2 linked regions of the Homo sapiens genome follow. The protein of the gene in region 1 interacts with the protein of each later gene in a biochemical or structural test. Each region holds a gene or a part of one and is shown on either strand. Other genes may lie near its edges.

Region 1 (3,930 bases):
TAAACAGATCATTATTATATATAGGTATTGATTGCTACCCTGACCACAGTGCTTTGGACTATGAGAAACTTCTTAGATTTTTATATGTAAATGCTGTGGACCACTGGGAGCACAATGCCCACATCATCTTAAGAAGAGTTTATGTGCAGCATTTAAATCACTGTGTTTTCCTTGTTAACTAAAACAGACATGGGCTTTGATTTTTTTCATACTATTAGACCATATCTCATAAAACCTTTTGAATTAATGAAGGTACTTGTTTCCTTTCTCAATAATGAAAATAGGCTTCTAGTTTTAGAAGGCTGAGCCGAAACTACACCTTGCCTAGGGATCAGCCCCACTGTCTTTTCTTTGTATAACTAAATCTGCATTTTCAAATGTTGTCAATCACATTTTTCTTAGAGCTGAATATCCAGGCTGTAATTCTCTAAACCCTTTTTCTTGACCTCATTGCATCATTCCACAGGTCTTGCCCCGATTTTGTCTAGCAGCTACCCATTTCTGGAGTCAGGATGTGAAACCTCTGTTCCTCTGACCTCATTAAGCTGGGGGTCTGTCTAAGTTAACGTTTGCCCTATTTGGTAACACAAAAACACACCAGACTTTTTAACCGTACGCTCATCTAACATGATTTGAGAAATTCATAACCAGGCACTCAAATATCCTTGTAGCCTACGAAAAGTGAGTAGGGTAATAATTTTTGCTTTGTAGGGAGAACTACAAATTGATATCTTTTAATCTGGCCATTTTTTAACATTTAGCTCAATATTAACAGAGAAATGTAGTCAGTATTTAGTAAAATAAATGTATTTTTAAAATATTTTTAGGAAGCTGCAGAATGGCGACTGAGTGCTTCTTGATAAGTCTGCAGTGTTAGTTCTATATAGGCTCCCTTCTGTGCTTCTGTTTTTGCAAAGACCTGTTTAAATTAAAAAGAAAATTTTAAAACAATAGGACATATGCTATTTATAAAGTTTTTCAGTTTTAAGACATCATTAGCATTTCTGTAGTAGCAAAGAGTCCTACTTAAAAAGGGCTTTCAGATTTCACAATTTTTCCCCCGATTATACAATAATTAATAAACACACATGGACAGAAAAACAATACCCAACACATTTCAAGCAATACTAATTCTAAACACCAGAAGTATCCAATTAAGACCCTGACATTGTATTAATATTAATACTTCCTTCGAGATCAAAACAAAAACCATTAGGTTAGAGAGAAATCTGGAGGCTAAGAGTTACCAAACTAACTTTTGACTTTAAAGAATATTTTCTCCAAAAACATTGCGCTTTATCAGGTTCATAAAGAAAATCAGTACTGTAGTTTCTCTCTACTCTTCCTAGGATGTCATCACAGGTCATTGTTTCCTTAGCTTTGCAGCATGCAAACAGTATTACTAGGATAGAAGCCAGTTCCACAAAACCATGTATATTCTGAGCATTAGAAGAGATGAAATTAATTATACAATCTCCTCCCCTTCCCTTCCTGAAAATATCATCTCAACTCTCAGCACTTACAGATAAATGTACATAAGCCCATGGTTTTGAGAGGTATGCAGCTCCAAAATGACAATACAGCTAAGGCTTGATGATATACAAGCATCACACTCTCCACTTCTTGACACATGCCCATTTCCCCCGATGTGATGTGACCACACAAAGACAGGAAGCTGCTCTGGGGGACATGTGCTACTTAGTCCTCTACCCTGTCCTGTTGGTGGCTTGAACACCTCAGATGCAGCTCAGCCCTTCCAGTGCTCCAAAGAACAAAGGGGCTGCTCCCTGCACTGTCAGAACTTCTCTGGACTCCAGCTGCTAGCACCACATCACTCAACCTACTTTACTGCACTTTACCCCCCTCCCCTGTCTGTTTCTATTGTCCAGGCTGAAGAAATATGGGGACAAATCATACTGATGTTTTCAAGACCACAGATGTCCCATATTCACAAATCTGTTTAGTTACCATTAATTATGACCCAATTCTGAATTTTTCCCAGCTCAATTACCACCACAAAACAACCAATATGAAAAAAAAACTTTACCTTGATTAAATTTATTCCCTCAGCAGCCTGATCCTTGGCCCCTTGAGCCGACTGGCCATCTGGATGGAGCACGTGATACAGCTGGACCAAGTTGGTTGCATCATCGATTCTGAGAATGAAAGGGTTTAATGTTATCTAGGGGTTTTCTTCATTTGATTCACAGTCCTATAAAAGTGTGTGCCAACTTCAAACTAAATTACATTTCAGACTTTCCTCAGGCTGGAGGGATTGGGGAAGGACCTTCAGTTTTACAGTTTCAAAAGCATTTTCAGGAAAATTGACTAATTTAGGCCTCACACCAACTCCGTGAGGCAGCTAGGGCAGGAGTCACTGCAGGAAGTGTCCAATTTATGAAAGTGAATATATTCCAAATGTGGCTATATTCTTTTTGGAAAAAGAGCACCATTTCTCACAGAAACAGCATTCCTAATGGTAGACAATTTCCAGGCCAGCTTACTTCACCAGCATGTAATAGTCTAATCCAACTCAGAGGACAGAAACACAGCTTCATCCCACATAAGCAGGAGGGTGGTGGTCACAGGGATCTCAAAGTCACTTGCCTCTAAGTGACATTTGCTAACAGACAAATGCCTCTACAAGAGGCCCCCTAAGATTCCAAGGAAAGGATTCACAGGAACGCATTAGTAAAATAGCATCCTAGTGAAGCAAATTTGAAATTATACACACACATCAGACAAAAAGGAAAATCGGGTTCTACATCAGCAATCTGTCTTAACTTCAGCATCACACAACTACCTATGAAGAAGACAGAACAAGAATTCAGTTCTTCTGGTCTGTACTTCTCAGAAATGTATAAACAATTTTTATCAACATTAAAACTGTCCTAGCAAAACCAAACAATCACTATCTTTTCACACAGCTGACACTTTCCCACCATTTGCCATCTCATCGCTGGAGGGCACAGAAAAACGACACTCAAAATGCTTGTGCTTTTGAGGCTCTGCTATATACACTAAGTGAACTACTGGCTTCCAGTTGGGAATGGAGGGCTGAGGACACCCTAATTCAGTGCTTCCGCAGCTAGCACTCTTCAGCCTTCCCTGCGTTCCCCTTACCTGAGCTGGGGGATGAAGAGCAGGGTGACAGTGGGAGTAAGTACAGAATTCCTCAAGCCTTGGTAGCCTTAGAGAAATGCTCTGGGCTTATACTGAGGCTCATCTACCCTAAAGGCCATCTCTCAGGAAAACAGAGCTGTTGTATCATAAAGCTTTTCAGGGGGAAAAAAATAAAAAATGTTCATCACAAATCTATTGTGCTTGTTATAATCTAACAAAGTCCACTAAATGTAGTAACGAAATGTCTCCCCAATAAAAAATTAAGATTCCCTTTGGAGCTTAGGCATGTGGCCTTATAAAGAGCTTAACTGGACTGCTACCTGTTGGTATGTTCAGGGCTTCATTAGGTTCATGCTTAAGTATAATGCCTGTGCCTCACAGAACAATTTAAATTTAGCTTAACACCCCACCCATACTTAAAGAGCAAATAAATTATATTTCGAAAAGATTTTAAAATAATCTCAATATAAAAACCAACAGTGGGAACTGAGTCTGGAATAAATGTGTGCAGAATCCTAATTCTTTTCTGAGCTCCACTCAGTGAGGATATGCACCCTCTACTGTCCAGCCTGTGGTTTGCAGTAAGCTCACTCTTCTGTTCAGAATGACCACAGGAGGGCCTTTACCTAGGAATAGCAGGAAAAGCTAAGTAAGTACTCAAACTTCCCTCCCAGTAAGCATGAATTGCTTCAGATGTAAAGCTTACATGTGATGAGTAATACTATAATATCATACATTAATATATCCTAATAAACTTTAATTTTCAAACATTTCTGCGTTGCTCTAATTTTTTGTAAGAACATACTG
Region 2 (3,820 bases), on another chromosome or scaffold:
ACTTGTTGTTTTTAACTCTATGCCCTACTTCTGGATATTTGGGGGCGGGGATTGTGGGCATGTGTATGTTCAAACAAAGAATGCGTTTTCTACAGCATGTATTTTCCTCCTAAAAACCCAATTTTTAAATATTTCTATTAAATATTAAAAGTAAAAGCTGTGAAATGAGATTTTGATTCACCAGAGGTCTCTAGGACATTACCATTCCTTATATTGGGAACAGCCCAGTAATTCCATGTGTACAATATGTGGAGGCAGAGGCTGAGAACTGTAACTGGTCTTAAGTGTGTGTGCTCAGTGTTGTGTGTCTTACCTCTAGGACACATCCATATTTGTGTTTCTTCTGACCACGCGGGTGGGCGGCTTAGGTGTCAACCTGACGGGGGCAAACAGAGTTGTCATCTATGACCCAGACTGGAACCCAAGCACGGACACGCAGGTTTGTTTTTATTTTTTTTTTAAAAGAATGTATTAGTAGAAATATAGTTTCATGGTTAGCGCTTTTGACTGTCCTTTGATGTTCTGGTTGGCTTCAGCATACGTTTCACATTTTGATTGTCTCCTGTTCTTCAACGTGAAAGAAGACACCCTTCAGAGTCAAATGGACAGGAACCATCTTCAGCAGTTTATCCATAGCATTCATTCCTAGAGTTGGGGTAAAAAGAACATAGGCAAAGTTACAAACATTTTTTCAAGTAGAGATGTCTTTTCAACTGGCTGTTCATCTTCCTGAGTAGGCCTTAGGTGTACTTGACGTCATGAGTCAAAATTCTAACTCTGGGAGTGACAGGTAGTGACCAGCTAGCTTTGTTTCTTATAGTCAGTGCTTGTCATTGGGAAGGATTCTCGTTGAGAGGTCTCTCTCTCTCTGTTGCAGGCCCGGGAGCGAGCATGGAGAATAGGCCAGAAGAAGCAAGTGACTGTGTACAGGCTCCTGACTGCGGGCACCATTGAAGAAAAGATCTACCACCGGTCAGTGCACACAGTGGCCACTCTTGGCTGTGCGTTCCCAGAGTCTTGAGCAGGGAATTTTTCCAAAGTGTTGTTTTTAAAAGTCTTAACATCTTAGAATAATAGTTGCTATAACTTAAGGCTTTGGTTTTTGTTTTGTATTTTTTCTTTCCCTTTAAAATATGCTTAGATGTCTTACTGTGAGTTGTCAAAAAATGTCTTTGAACCTGATAATTTTTGTACCTTATTCTACCTCAAGAATCACATACATGTAAACTTCATATTGTTATTTGAAAGGAATATTTCTGCCTGCTATGGTGTGTTGCCTTCAGAAAAATTTTAAAAAATGACAAGGTTGAATGTTACCATATTGGTGTTTACATACCACATTATGCAGGTAGGATCAGTGTGGGTGTTCTGGCAGTCTTTGACTCTGATGCCCCTTACAAAGAAGTCGACAGGATGGCTGTTTCGTCCTCTGTCTTTCCATAATGACTAGGGGATTTTAGACAGTGGTAACTTCAACAGTAGAATCAAGACATTGCCAGCTTCTCCCACTCCCCCACCACAGACTTTATCCTTGAGCCATAGCCCAGCTTTTATAGGAAGCTCTGTGCCCTTTACCACATGCTGGGCCATTCCTGGAACATTACATCTTCCTCGAGGGAGTGTTGTGTGAGGGTGGAGGACGAGTTGGATCCTGTGAGAAGAGAGCTTCCTTTTATAGATTCATGCTTTAGCTGGGAGAATAAATGACAGGGAGGGACAGGGTGGCTGGTGGAGGTGCCTGTTCCAGAGTGGCAGTGGTGTGGGGCTTCAGCAGAGTGTGGACCTGCAGGTGGGAGCAGGGAGAGAGAGGTCAGAGTGGAGACATTGCAAAGCCCAGGTAAGAGAGTTTGCTGAGCCCTATGATAGGAAGGTTCTAGGCAGGGCAGGACCCTTGGTATTCAAGTCAAGGAGGCTAAGAGAGACTATGAGTCACATGATGGCATGTGAAAAGGTGTTTCTTGAAATGTGTTAGATCTTGGAGGTTGAAAAAGCTCATTCGGTGTAAATAATAAGGTATTATTTCTAATTTAAATTCTGCAAGACCTGGGAGATTAACTGATGTATTATATATTTCCTGAATTGTAATTTTCCAAGGCTGAAAGTTTGGGGGATTATTTAGCCATTCATGCAGCAGCTGTTATCATCTCTCTCTTATATTGCTTTATAACTTGAATTTTTAGGTAGAGCTACACATTGTTTTATACCAGCTTATCTTTTATTTTTTTAGACAAATCTTCAAGCAGTTTTTGACAAATAGAGTGCTAAAAGACCCAAAACAAAGGCGGTTTTTCAAATCCAATGATCTCTATGAGCTATTTACTCTGACTAGTCCTGATGCATCCCAGAGCACTGAAACAAGTGCAATTTTTGCAGGTATTACATAAAATCATTTAATTTAAAGTAATCAATTGCACAAGATGATACAATATAGTATTAGTGGTGTTTTTCCTCTTTACAGGAACTGGATCAGATGTTCAGACACCCAAATGCCATCTAAAAAGAAGGATTCAACCAGCCTTTGGAGCAGACCATGATGTTCCAAAACGCAAGAAGTTCCCTGCTTCTAACATATCTGTAAATGATGCCACATCATCTGAAGAGAAATCTGAGGCTAAAGGAGCTGAAGTAAATGCAGTAACTTCTAATCGAAGTGATCCTTTGAAAGATGACCCTCACATGAGTAGTAATGTAACTAGCAATGATAGGCTTGGAGAAGAGACAAATGCAGTATCTGGACCAGAAGAGTTGTCAGTGATTAGTGGAAATGGGGAATGTTCAAATTCTTCAGGAACAGGCAAAACTTCTATGCCATCTGGTGATGAAAGCATTGATGAAAAGTTAGGTCTTTCTTACAAAAGAGAAAGACCCAGCCAGGCTCAAACAGAAGCTTTTTGGGAGAATAAACAAATGGAAAATAATTTTTATAAGCACAAGTCAAAAACAAAACATCATAGTGTGGCAGAAGAAGAGACCCTGGAGAAACATCTGAGACCAAAGCAAAAGCCTAAGAACTCTAAGCATTGCAGAGACGCCAAGTTTGAAGGAACTCGAATTCCACACCTGGTGAAGAAAAGGCGTTACCAGAAGCAAGACAGTGAAAACAAGAGTGAGGCCAAGGAACAGAGCAATGACGATTATGTTTTGGAAAAGCTTTTCAAAAAATCAGGTAATCCATTTGATACGTTTGCCACAGGGATGCTAGGATTAGAAAATGAGTAGGCTGTTTCTAGCAGTAGCAGTCTTTAACTGATGGTGCATAGAGGGCTGTCAGCCATTAGTGTTTTTCTTCAAAAATTTAGATTTGAAATATATTGACATTTTAAAAATCGTATTTACACCTCTTTTCTGAAGACCTAGAATAATTTGAAACTTTGGAAAACAATAGTACTTATGGCCACTCATGGGAGGTGTGCAATTCTTAAATCGATGTGTACTACCTGAACATTAGTAGGCAGTTACTTTACATGCTATATGCTACATTAATCTGATTTTCCAACCACAGGAGATTAAAGTAACATCATAAGGGAGAGGGACAAGCGTGTGGCTAGAGACAGACATTCTAGAAGTATGAAAGCTGATAGCTTATGTCAAGGGAGAAAAGTTAGGAGATGTAGACTCAACAATTGCTCAAGACCATGGAGTATATAGATAGCCCTGCTTAGTGATCCCTTAGCAGTCACTGTGTTCACAATGTGATGGCCTTGAGTTACCAAAGATTGCTGCTTATGGTACTCAGTTTAAGAAGGCAGGTTTATGTGTAGCATTTCAGAAAGACTTTTATTTAGCATGGTTAATTTTTTTGTTAATTTCATATTTTGAA

What was found.
Region 2: the proteins of MRPS22 (region 1) and ERCC6 form a complex in vitro, tested with the Homo sapiens proteins (one large-scale study listed by BioGRID).

Annotation. Positions count from the first base shown.
Region 1 is NC_000003.12:139,353,908-139,357,837, reverse strand, and holds the end of MRPS22 (small ribosomal subunit protein mS22), read right to left. Parts: intron 2,157-3,930; coding exon 2,048-2,156; intron 920-2,047; coding exon 824-919; 3' UTR 709-823; downstream 1-708.
Region 2 is NC_000010.11:49,469,528-49,473,347, reverse strand, and holds part of ERCC6 (DNA excision repair protein ERCC-6), read left to right. Parts: intron 1-319; coding exon 320-439; intron 440-877; coding exon 878-972; intron 973-2,227; coding exon 2,228-2,373; intron 2,374-2,458; coding exon 2,459-3,166; intron 3,167-3,820. UniProt on the Homo sapiens protein: Involved in repair of DNA damage following UV irradiation, acting either in the absence of ERCC6 or synergistically with ERCC6. Involved in the regulation of gene expression.